Linked DNA regions of Homo sapiens. The protein of the gene in region 1 purifies or fractionates together with the protein of each later gene. This does not show direct contact. Each region holds a gene or a part of one and is shown on either strand. Other genes may lie near its edges. The genes, in order: IFT52, TTC21A and IFT172.

Region 1 (3,649 bases):
CGATTCTCCTGCCTCAGCCTCCCCAGTAGCTGGGATTACAGGCATGCGCCACCACACCCAGCTAATTTTGTATTTTTAGTAGAGAAGGGGTTTCTCCATGTTGGTCAGGCTGGTCTTGAACTCCCAACCTCAGGTGATCTGCCCACCTTGGCCTCCCAATGTGCCGGGATTACAGGCGTGAGCCACTGCACCCAGCCTTTTTTTTTGTTTTTTTGAGACAAGGTCTCATTATGTTGTCCAAGCTGGTCTTGAAATCCCAGCCTCAACTGATCCTCCTGCCTTGGCTTTTTGAAGTGTTCAGATTATAGGCATGATCCACCGTGCTCAGGCAATTTTTTTTTTTTTTTTTGTAGAGATGGGGTCTATGTGACCCAGGCTTATTTCATACTCTTTTTAACCAATCCCCCTAATGATGGATGGACCATTAGACTGTTTCCAATTTTTTGAATGCTATAATTAATATCTATATCTTTTTTGTCTTGCATTTCTACAAGGATTTCCATAGGACAGTTGCTAGAAACAGAAATGCCAAGTCAAAGCTGCTTCTTCACCGTTCTGTGATTCCTCCTGGACTCATCACTATGTCCTGCTCATTTTTGACTGCCCAGGACCCACAGCAATGCCTGCCACAGAAGAGAGATGCAGTAAAGGTCTTCGTTTACACTGAACTGTTTCCATTTTGCTTACTTCTTTCTGGGCTTTGGGCACATACAGATGTTACTGACATAGCTGGTATCCTCTTGTACATGCAGTTTTATATCTTGCTTTCTTCATTCAGGATTCTCTCTTAAATTCTGTCTGTGTCATATGTGTCATTCCCTAGCCTTTGTGAACCTCTTTTATAATGACTACATATTCTCCTACCAAATGAATGTGACGCATTTTAAGACCATTACTCTGCTAGTGGACATTAAAGCTATTCCCAAATTTATAGTTTTTTTCTATTTTTAAAAATTGTTATTTTTTTAAAATATATTTTTAGAGACAGGGTCTTGCTATGTTGCCCAGACTGGTCTTAAATTCCTAAGTTCAAGCGATCCTCCTACCTCAGCCTCCCGAGTTTATTGTATTTTAAAAATAAATAGTGTAGAAGTTGGCCGGACGTGGTGGCTCATGCCTGTAATCCCAGCACTTTGGGAGGCTGAGGCGGGTGGATCACCTGAGGTCTGGAGTTTTAGACCAGCTTGGCCAACATGGTAAAACCCCATCTCTACTAAAAACACAAAAATTAGCCATGCGTGGCGGTGGGCAACTGTAATCCCAGCTACTTGGGAGGCTGAGGCAGGAGAATCGCTTGAACTCAGGAGGCGGAGGTTACCTCGAGCTGAGATAGCACTATTGCACCCAAGGCTGGGCGACAAGAGTGAAACTTTGTCTCAAAAAAAAAAAAAATATAATCTCCTTAGATTAGAGTTCCAGGAGTGGGGTCACTGCCTCAAAGTGGATGGTTAATTTTATGCCTCTGAGCATATATGTGCAGACCCATTTGCTGTGTTGGAGGCAATTCATGTCAGGAGCAGCCCCAGACCAAAAGTCAGGAGGACCACTCACCGTGGAGCTGTGTGGCCTGGGGCCTCATTTCTTCATCCACATGTCAAGGTGGGCACACTTGGCTCTCTCTCAGATCCTGTCCAATTTGAAGTCTCTATCATTCTTTGGGCCTTACTCAATTTCCTTATTTAGCTGCTCCTATGACCACTGACTGAGATTTGCTAAGTGGCAGCCAGGGTCAAGATTAATTCTATGGTCTCTCAATAGGTCAGAACTAAGGACTCACAGGGATCAAAGCTGAGACCTTTGGCTTTCTGCTTGGCACTATGTTCTAATTCACTGAACTAAATAGCCTCGAGAAGAACAACCAACATTATTTACATGACATAAATAAGAATGGTAAGTTTATACTCCTATTCATATTTTGTTTTCCCTAAACAAACTCTAAGCAGTCTCTCATAGCAATTCTCAGAAATTCATGATTAAATAAAACTCATAAGAGAAAACAAAGTTTAAAAGTTGGCCAAACTTAGGCCAGGCATGGTGGCTCACGCCTGTAATCCCAGCACTCTGGGAGGCCGAGGCGGGCTGATCGCCTGAGGTCAGGAGTTTGAGACCAGCCTGACCAATATGATGAAACCCCGTCTCTACTAAAAATACAAAAATTAGCTGGGCGTGGTGGCGCATGCCTGTAATCCCAGCTACTCGGGAGGCTGAGACAGGAGAATCGCTTGAACCTGGGAGACAGAGGTTGCAGTGAGCCGAGATCGCACCATTGCACTCCAGCCTGGGCAACAAGAGTGAAACTCTGTCTCAAAAAAAAAAAGTTCGCCAAACTTACACTTATTGGTAATCTGAGCCAGCCGTGCCTTCTCAGAGGAGAACGTTTCATCTAAATCAAATAGCTCCAGAGGAGGAGGTGGTAACTCCCGGAAACTGGGAGGAAAAACCTAAAAGGAAATAAAGTCATTATTTAGAAATGAGGGAGGATAAGGTAAAGGAAATAAAGTCTCTCAAGAAAGAGCTTGTCCAAAATCATAACTAACAGTGATAAGACACAAGGAGAATAAGGAAGTTCACATCCTTAATTCCTCAGTTGGGAACCACACCACATGGAAACCCCTACAGAACAGTAACTCGGCTCTTCCCTGAGGATGAAATACCCAAACTCCCATCACCTCGTCTACCCTCACCCATTAGACCCATACCAAGAAAGATTATTAGCCCACTGTAAACAACCAAGTAGAACCAGCTCTAATTACCACTAAACTGACCAAGCTGACATACCAATGCTAATTAACTCAGAACGATGACACAAAGCTTGGGGCTTAGGTTTGTGTTGAACATTTGATTGTACAACTTGTTTCTCATTTAATCATAAGTTTTTAGGGATGGAAGTTATTTGGAGAACCAGATGCAGATTAGTGTAGAAAGTATTGAACCTGGAGTCACATTTTGTAGGTATGAACCAATGGTATGCGGGTAAATGTTTAACTACTTTCAAAACAAAACAAAACTGAAGGCCTGTTTTGTAGCATTTACCATTTTCTGTAATGTAAATCCTCTCACCATGGCCAATTTCAAGCTACCAAGCAAGATCAAGCTAACTGGCTCATAACATTTCAGAATGTGGTGAGACAAGGTAATTTTAAAGGCAAGTTGAATGTTGGACTGAAATGTTGAAAAATAACCTATTTACACACATGACCATAACTATCCCCTGGGCTGTGAGAATTATGTTATGAATCAGGCCCTGACACCTGGAATGGCAGTACAAAGTTTTCTTCCTTTTTATCCAAGAAATCTCATATATGCCCTCCAACCCCACAAGATGAGAATAGGAAATGTTTAATAGCCAGAAGGCTCCACATCCTTGATTCCTCAATTTGGAAGCATACCACATGGAAGTCTCTATAGAACATTAACAAATTTGGTGTCCATGCATGTTTAGAGACAGAGCACTATGACTCCACAAGGAGTGCCACAAATGGCACATGGAAGGGACCACAGCGAATGCCTGCTGACAAGATAAGGGCAACAGTGGGGCTCTGCAGTGGGATCTCCCAAGCACACCTACTCACCGCAGGCTGAAGGGTTGGCAGCGGCGTCTCAAACTGAGGCTGGATGAGCTGGAGTGGTTCATGTTTCACATTTAGCT
Region 2 (3,649 bases), on another chromosome or scaffold:
CATCAATCTTTACCACCAAGTCTTGGAGAAAGCGCCAGGTAATTCTGCCCATGGAGACTGCCTGTACCAGTTCCCACTGAGCAAGGGCCGCTCTCCCAGAGAAGGGTGGGACCTCTCCCTCCTTCCTGACTGGGCAGAGGAAGCCCCTTCCTCCCTGATTGTTCCAGAGAAGCAGGAAACTGATAAAGACCCAGTGGAACGTGCCGGCCCTTCCCGAGTCCAAGGGGCCAGTTCCTGGTCTCAAGGACTTGGCACTGGACCCAGGACAGCATGTCTGTCCCCAAATCACAGCCAATGGGGCTTGACACAGTCCCCTTTTGAGGTCACAGCCACTTGTAGGGACTAGAAATTCTCCCCCGTTGTATAGCTTCATTCCCATTCACTGCAGCGTAAAACCACCCCTTATTGCTGGGGAAAGGGGCCAGACCTGAGGCTCAGGTTGGAGCCCTGGCAGGCCCATGGCAGTGTGCCCATAGGCCCAGGAGGTCACCACGGTTAGGAGTATGGGTGCTGGGGCCAGGCTGCCTGGGTCTGAGTCCTGGTCTACCACTTACTGGTTGTGCAACTTTCAGCAAATTATTTCTCCATGTCTCAGTGTCCTCATCTGTAAAACAGACACAATAAGAGTACCTACCTAGGCCGGGCATGGTGGCTCACACCTGTAATCCTAGCACTTTGGGAACCCGAGGCGGGCAGATCACAAGGTCAGGGGATCGAAACCATCCTGGCTACACGGTGAAACCCTGTCTCTACTAAAAATACAAAAAAATTGGCCGGGCGTGGTGGCGGGTGCCTGTAGTCCCAGCTACTCGGGGGTGGGCTGAGGCAGGAAAATGGCATGAACCCAGGAGGCAGAGCTTGCAGTGAGCCGAGATCACGCCACTGCACTCCAGCCTGGGTGACAGGGCGAGACTCCGTCTCAAAAAAAAAAAAAAAGATTAGGTACCTACCTAATCTTGCAGTTAATATATAGGTAAAGCACTTAATACCAGGTACAATATAAGTGCTATATAAGTGTTAGCTGCTATTCTTTACTATTTTTAAGCATTAGTATTATTCTTTACTCAACCCTGGAGACCAGTGGAGACTCTGGAGCTGTTGGAATGTCCCTGCTCAGCCCAGATGGGCAGTATCTCTTGGCTTCTCCTAGGGCCCCAGCACCCTCATCTGATAACAGCTACTGGGCATTTCAGCCTGGAGATTTCTGTCTCTTATTTTAGACAATTTTTTGGTATTGCATAAATTAATCGATCTGCTAAGAAGAAGTGGAAAACTTGAAGACATTCCTGCCTTCTTTGAATTGGCCAAGAAGGTGTCTAGCCGGGTGCCTTTGGAACCAGGGTTCAATTACTGCAGAGGTATCTACTGCTGGTGAGTTGGGTGTGGTGTGTTGAGGGGCAGCTGTGTGCAGGAAGCCCTACTGGCAGATAGGCTAGGCCCTTGCTCTGCACAAAAGGAGCAGAAATTCTGCCTCCAGGACACCCGGACCCAGCAAGTGAGGGCCCATGGGGGCAGGGGTGGAACCCTGTGGAAGTCAGGGAGAGCCTGCAGCCTCTGGATGGAGGCCAGGTGAGGGCCACTTGGGCAGGCCACCAGCCTGCATCCAACACACAGGTCCGACGCCCGCATCTCCTCCAGGGGAGCTGGGAAACCAGAGATCCAGCCTCTGCTTTGTGCAGACTCACAAAGTGGTCCTTGTATATCCCTGCCCTGTCTGGGCCTCAGTTTCCCTCACTGATTCTTGGTGTTTTCTCCACCACAGGCACATAGGGCAGCCCAACGAAGCCTTAAAGTTCCTGAACAAGGCACGCAAGGACAGCACTTGGGGCCAGAGCGCCATCTACCACATGGTGCAGATCTGTCTGAATCCAGACAACGAGGTTGTGGGCGGAGAGGCTTTTGAGAACCAGGGAGCTGAGAGCAAGTAAGGGCCCATGGAGGCAGGGGCGGAACCCTGGGGAAGTTACAGAAAGCCTGCAACCTCTGGGTTGAAGCCAGGTGAGGGCCACACGGGCAGGCCACCGGCCTGTGTCTGATACCCAGGTCTAACACCTGCAGCTACATGGAGAAGAAGGAGTTGGAGCAGCAGGGTGTGAGCACCGCCGAGAAACTGCTGCGTGAGTTTTACCCACATTCAGACTCCAGCCAGACCCAGCTGCGGCTGCTGCAGGGCCTCTGCCGGCTGGCCACCAGGGAGAAGGCTAACATGGAGGCTGCGCTGGGCAGCTTCATCCAGATAGCGCAGGCTGAGGTGTGGCTGGTGGGGACTGGCGGGCATGGGCAGGTGGCAGGGCCGAGAAGACCAGGCGGCCAACACGTGCTGACGTCCACTTCCTACCTGGTGTGTAGAAGGACAGCGTCCCTGCCCTGCTGGCCTTGGCACAAGCCTACGTGTTCCTGAAGCAGATCCCCAAGGCGCGTATGCAGTTGAAGCGCCTGGCCAAGACCCCCTGGGTGCTGAGTGAGGCTGAGGACCTGGAGAAGAGCTGGCTCCTGCTGGCTGACATTTACTGCCAGGGCAGCAAGTTCGACCTCGCCTTAGAACTGCTGCGGCGCTGTGTGCAATACAACAAGGCAAGGAGCCACACACACACTAGGGCTGCGGGATGGCGGAAAGGATTCTAGGCATTCCAGGAAGGTGAAGCAGGCTTTGCAGGTAGAGGCCATATGGAATAAGAACTAGTCGGGAAGAGGCAGGCTGAGAGGGGCACATGGGCGACAGACCAGAATAGGAATGAGGATCAAGGGCGATGGACCAGGTGAGAGGAGGTGCACAGGGGTCGTGTTATGTCCAGAGGAGGGAACACTAAAGGACAGAAAGAGATGGGAAAGCTTCATGGGTTCCAAGCTGGAGGGACTTTTGCAGGTCAGAGCAGGCCAGGAATGGGAGTGGCGGAACAGGAGGGCTACAGGGAAAGGGGTTACGCCAGTGTCTGGGGTAGCTGAGAGGAGGGCACACAGTTGGCTTCTTGCAAAGGTTGGGGTACCCCTGGGGTCCCTTGGCAGTTTGGTTTATGGCAGCTCACTTCTGTCCCTTGCCTGCTTCTGGTTCTGGTCCCAGTCCCACCCTGGCCCAGGGAACCAGTTGGGGCTTCCGCTCTGCAGAGGCTCTAACTGGCTTTCCCTGCAGTCCTGCTACAAGGCCTATGAGTACATGGGCTTCATCATGGAGAAGGAGCAGTCCTACAAGGATGCAGTCACCAACTACAAACTGGCCTGGAAGTACAGTCATCACGCCAACCCTGCCATTGGTAAGGCAACCAGCCAGGGTGCACGTGAATGGACGTGGGAGGGAGGTGGGCAGGAGGGCCCCCACCATGACCCCAGAACTCAAGGCCTGTACCCTGGCTGTTATGAGAACCAGAGGGGTTCTCAGGTCACCAGGGTGCCACCATCTTTGCTCTCCATGTCCCCGGTAGGCTTCAAACTTGCTTTCAACTACCTGAAGGACAAGAAATTTGTGGAGGCCATTGAAATCTGCAACGATGTAAGCCAGCAGCCTTGGTGGGGAGGGCCTGGTGTAGTGGTGGGGAAACCTGCATGATACTGCACACCCATTCTCTCTCTGTTCCAGGTCCTCAGGGAGCACCCCGACTACCCCAAGATCAGGGAGGAAATTTTGGAAAAGGCCCGAAGGTCCCTGAGGCCC
Region 3 (3,649 bases), on another chromosome or scaffold:
TAGCCCGGCATGATGGTGGGCACCTGTAGTCCCAGCTACTCAGGAGGCTGTGGCAGGAGAATGGCCTAAACCCAGGAGGCGGAGCTTGCAGTGAGCCGAGATTGCACCACTGCACTCCAGCCTGGGCGACAGAGCAAGACTCCGTCTCAAAAAACAAACAAACAAAATAAACAAACAAACAAAAAAACCTCAAAACCTAAGGGAAATTTTGCAGGGGCATCACCATACGAATATGTCATTTAGAGGGCCAATCTCACCCCCCTCATGACCCCCACTCACATTTCACTGTATCTAAGGTGCGTCATTTAAACTATACCTGCATCCCAATTTTAAATATATTAAAATATAATTATATATATGTATGTGTGTGTGTATATATATATATATATATGTTATTGTTAACTTTATGTATCAATTTGGGCTACAGGGTATCCGGGTATTTGGTCAAACATTATTCTGGGTGTTTCTATAAGTGTTTTTGGATGAGGTTAACATTTAAATTGGTAGACTGAGTAAAGCAAATTGCCCTCTCTACTGTGGATAGACCTCATCCAATCATTTCAAGGCATGAACAGAACATAAAGGCTGGCTCCTTCCCAAGTTAGAGAGAATTCTTCCTGTTTGACTGCCTTTAAACTGGGACACTGGCTTTTTCCTGCCTTCAGATTTGAACTGAAACATCAGCTCTTCTTGGGTCTCAAGCTTGCTGGCCTTCAAACAAGAACTACACCATCAGTTCTCCTGGGTTTTCAGTTTGCCAGCTCACCTGCAGATCTTGGGCCTTGTCTATCTCCATAACTGCATGAGCCAATTCCTTTTAATAAATCTCTTTATATACATGTACACACATATACCTACAGTCATGCATTGTCTAATGATCAGTATGTTCTGAGAAATGTGTCCTTAGGGGATTTCATCATTATGTAAGCATCATAGCACAAACCTAGATGGTATAGTCTACTATACACCTAGGTAGAGGTTGCGTAGAGCTTATTGCTCCTAGGCCACAAACCTGTACAGCACATTTCTGTACTGACTACCTATAGGCAACCATAACACAATGGTAAGCATTTGTGTATTGAAACCTATTTAAGGCCAGGCGTGGGATCACCTCAAGGGATCCACCCACCTCAGCTTCCCAAAGTGCTAGAATTATAGGCGTGAGCCACCATGCCCACCCATGTGGTCTACTGTTGACCAAAACGTTGTTATATGGCATATGACTGTATATATCCTGTTGGTTTCTCCAATACAGTATGTCTTATTATTTGTGACACATACTGGCCTGGCTTAATTTGCTGGAAGCTTCTTTTCAGGAAATGTTGGGTGGGGGAGGTGGAGCCCATGCTTTTTTCATGTTCCCTGTCTGGCCAGTTCCTGTGCCTGGAGTTGCCCTTCCAGCTCCTGTCCAAGTCTTCCCTCCTTCTTCACAGAGCCTTCCTGACCCCTCTAGCCCACAGAGATCTCACTGTTCTCTGAACTCTACTTTAAATCATGCACTTTAGTCTTTACTCAGATATGATAGTAATTGAGCCATTTATTGGTCTAATTCCCCTAACTTTTGGCTGTCAGGGCTCTGTCTTATATCCACTTTTATAGCCTTCAGAGGTTCTGGCTCTATCATCCAGCAGGCACTCCATAGATTCCTGCTACCTGATTGAAAAGAAAAAGACACAAGAGGAAAGAGCTGAAGATGTGAGAAGCAGAGCCAAGTGTGAATAGAGGCCTAGGGAGAAGGAGGGCCAGAAAGGGCCTGCTGTCCTCACCTTCATCCAGCACTTCTCCGCCAGGCCGCTGTTTCCAGAGTCTCGCACTTTGAGGTAGCAGTCCACGGCACGGCTGTACTCTCCAGCCTGCTCCCAGTGTCGAGCTTGTTCCACAAATCCCTCCACACCCCTGTGGAGATGAGAGCGCTGGGACTTGGCATGGTAGGGGGGCAGCATGCTCTATCCTGTGTATGCCTCATGACCCTCCCAGCCCTGCCAATGCTGCCTGGACCTCTGGCCTCATACCTGGCCCCCTTCTTAGTAGCTTCCCGCTCATATTCTTCCTGCAGAGCCTCCAGCTGGCTGGGCACATAGTCCTTGCAGATGCGCAGAGCGTCACTCCATAATCCAGCCTCCTGCTCAGATTTCCAGGTATCAAGAGGGCAGAGGCAGGCCTGACAGCTTCCCACTGCCACACAGGTACTCTGGCCCACAGACTCCTGGGTCCTTGGACCTCTCTTCTCCTCCTCTTTCCTGTCTTCCCCACTCCCCAATACTAACCTCCCTGATCTTTCTTCATACCAGGGGTCAGTGTGGCTCTCTGTGGGCTCTTACAAACTCTCCCCCTCCCCTCATGGCCCTGCATCCAGTGCCCCACCTTATAATAATTGAGGGCCAGGCCTGGTCTCTGGGCCCGGAGCAGCAGCCCTTCTGCTTTCTGAAAGTCCTTCTCCTCCAAGGCCCCCCGGGCCTGTCCCACAAGCACCTCGGCGACACTGTCAGGGTCGTGAGCCTCAGCCACACGCTGAGCTGCCTCCCAATCCTGGTTATGGACAAACCTGCCTCCAGGTGGGGACAGAGGAGAGACTGAGTATAGGACTGAGGCCCCAATAGTGGGAGACAAACAGCCATGTCACTGAGGGGTGTAACACTGATTTGTTCTAGGTTTGAATGAAGGTCAAGATAATCATGAAAGATCCTGGGACGGTGACTGGGGAAACAGTATTAAGGAATGTATGGGGTAACTCACATGAGGACTGCCTCCTTGGGTTTACCAGCTCTGATGAATTCAGCTTCAGCCTCTTCGAATTTACCCTACAGGGAGAGAAAGGCAGCCGTGCATGATGAGAAGGAGACTGGCATCACAGGCAGGCATGAGACTGGGGGTCTGCACACCCAGCAGCAGTGCACTAGGGGATGGAATAAGAGGGCTCTGCGGTCGGGGTCCAAATCACACCCATACCTCATCCTCCAGGAACATAGCATATTTGAGATGAACCTCGGGGGTTTTGTGCTTGAGGGCCAGCCGAGAGAGTTCAAACGCAAATTCAAAGGAGCTGAAACAGAAAGTGCAGATAAAGTTTTCTTGCTTCATGCTTCCCTTCATAAAAGGAACAAGACAAAACAGAGAAAGGACAGAGTTGAGGGGAGAAAAAGTGACAGATTTAAGGATAACAAATATGAAGTGACAGAAAAGCGTGGAGAGATAAAAAGGAAGACGGGCAGGCAGCCCTGTGAAGACCATGTCACTGTCAGCGTGGATCAAGAGACGTCTGGAAAAGCCTATGCCTTCCCTGAGGCCAGCTGCTCCTGAGGAATTAGTTTGGGCCTGCGAAGGGGAAGGGAGGAGTGAGCCTCGCAGCCCTACACTGACAGGGCTAGGAGGGCTCCTGGTGCTCTCCATCTCTTCCTGAGCCCCAGCTACATTAGCAGAAACAGAGTCTCTCCAAAAAATGAGCAAGACCACCCTCAGCATCGGACTCCATGATTGGCACTGATAACAGTAGCTTGAGAACACTTTGCTCTTTTGGCTATCTTTCTGCACCGCCGCAATAGTGCGCATGAATGTCCTGGCTGATGTGCTCAAGAGCATCAACAATGCCAGAAAGAGAGGCAAACGGCAGGTCCTTATTAGGCTGTGCTCCAAAGTCATCGTCTGGTTT

Evidence for each region.
Region 2: the proteins of IFT52 (region 1) and TTC21A purify together in Homo sapiens (co-immunoprecipitation; one study listed by IntAct). This does not show direct contact.
Region 3: the proteins of IFT52 (region 1) and IFT172 purify together in Homo sapiens (affinity purification with mass spectrometry; one large-scale study listed by BioGRID and IntAct). This does not show direct contact.

The regions. Positions count from the first base shown.
Region 1 is NC_000020.11:43,635,937-43,639,585, reverse strand, and holds part of IFT52 (intraflagellar transport protein 52 homolog), read right to left. Parts: coding exon 3,573-3,649; intron 2,442-3,572; coding exon 2,333-2,441; intron 1-2,332. UniProt on the Homo sapiens protein: Involved in ciliogenesis as part of a complex involved in intraflagellar transport (IFT), the bi-directional movement of particles required for the assembly, maintenance and functioning of primary cilia. Required for the anterograde transport of IFT88.
Region 2 is NC_000003.12:39,135,137-39,138,785, forward strand, and holds part of TTC21A (tetratricopeptide repeat protein 21A), read left to right. Parts: coding exon 1-38; intron 39-1,193; coding exon of another isoform or gene 1,194-1,220; coding exon 1,221-1,371; intron 1,372-1,762; coding exon 1,763-1,924; intron 1,925-2,043; coding exon of another isoform or gene 2,044-2,058; coding exon 2,059-2,251; intron 2,252-2,349; coding exon 2,350-2,574; intron 2,575-3,069; exon of another isoform or gene 3,070-3,130; coding exon 3,131-3,251; intron 3,252-3,419; coding exon 3,420-3,487; coding exon of another isoform or gene 3,488-3,544; exon of another isoform or gene 3,545-3,574; coding exon 3,575-3,649. UniProt on the Homo sapiens protein: Intraflagellar transport (IFT)-associated protein required for spermatogenesis. Required for sperm flagellar formation and intraflagellar transport.
Region 3 is NC_000002.12:27,451,618-27,455,266, forward strand, and holds part of IFT172 (intraflagellar transport protein 172 homolog), read right to left. Parts: intron 3,044-3,649; coding exon 2,950-3,043; intron 2,802-2,949; coding exon 2,737-2,801; intron 2,546-2,736; coding exon 2,365-2,545; intron 2,123-2,364; coding exon 2,013-2,122; intron 1,897-2,012; coding exon 1,767-1,896; intron 1,654-1,766; coding exon of another isoform or gene 1,621-1,653; exon of another isoform or gene 1,520-1,620; intron 1-1,519. UniProt on the Homo sapiens protein: Required for the maintenance and formation of cilia. Plays an indirect role in hedgehog (Hh) signaling, cilia being required for all activity of the hedgehog pathway.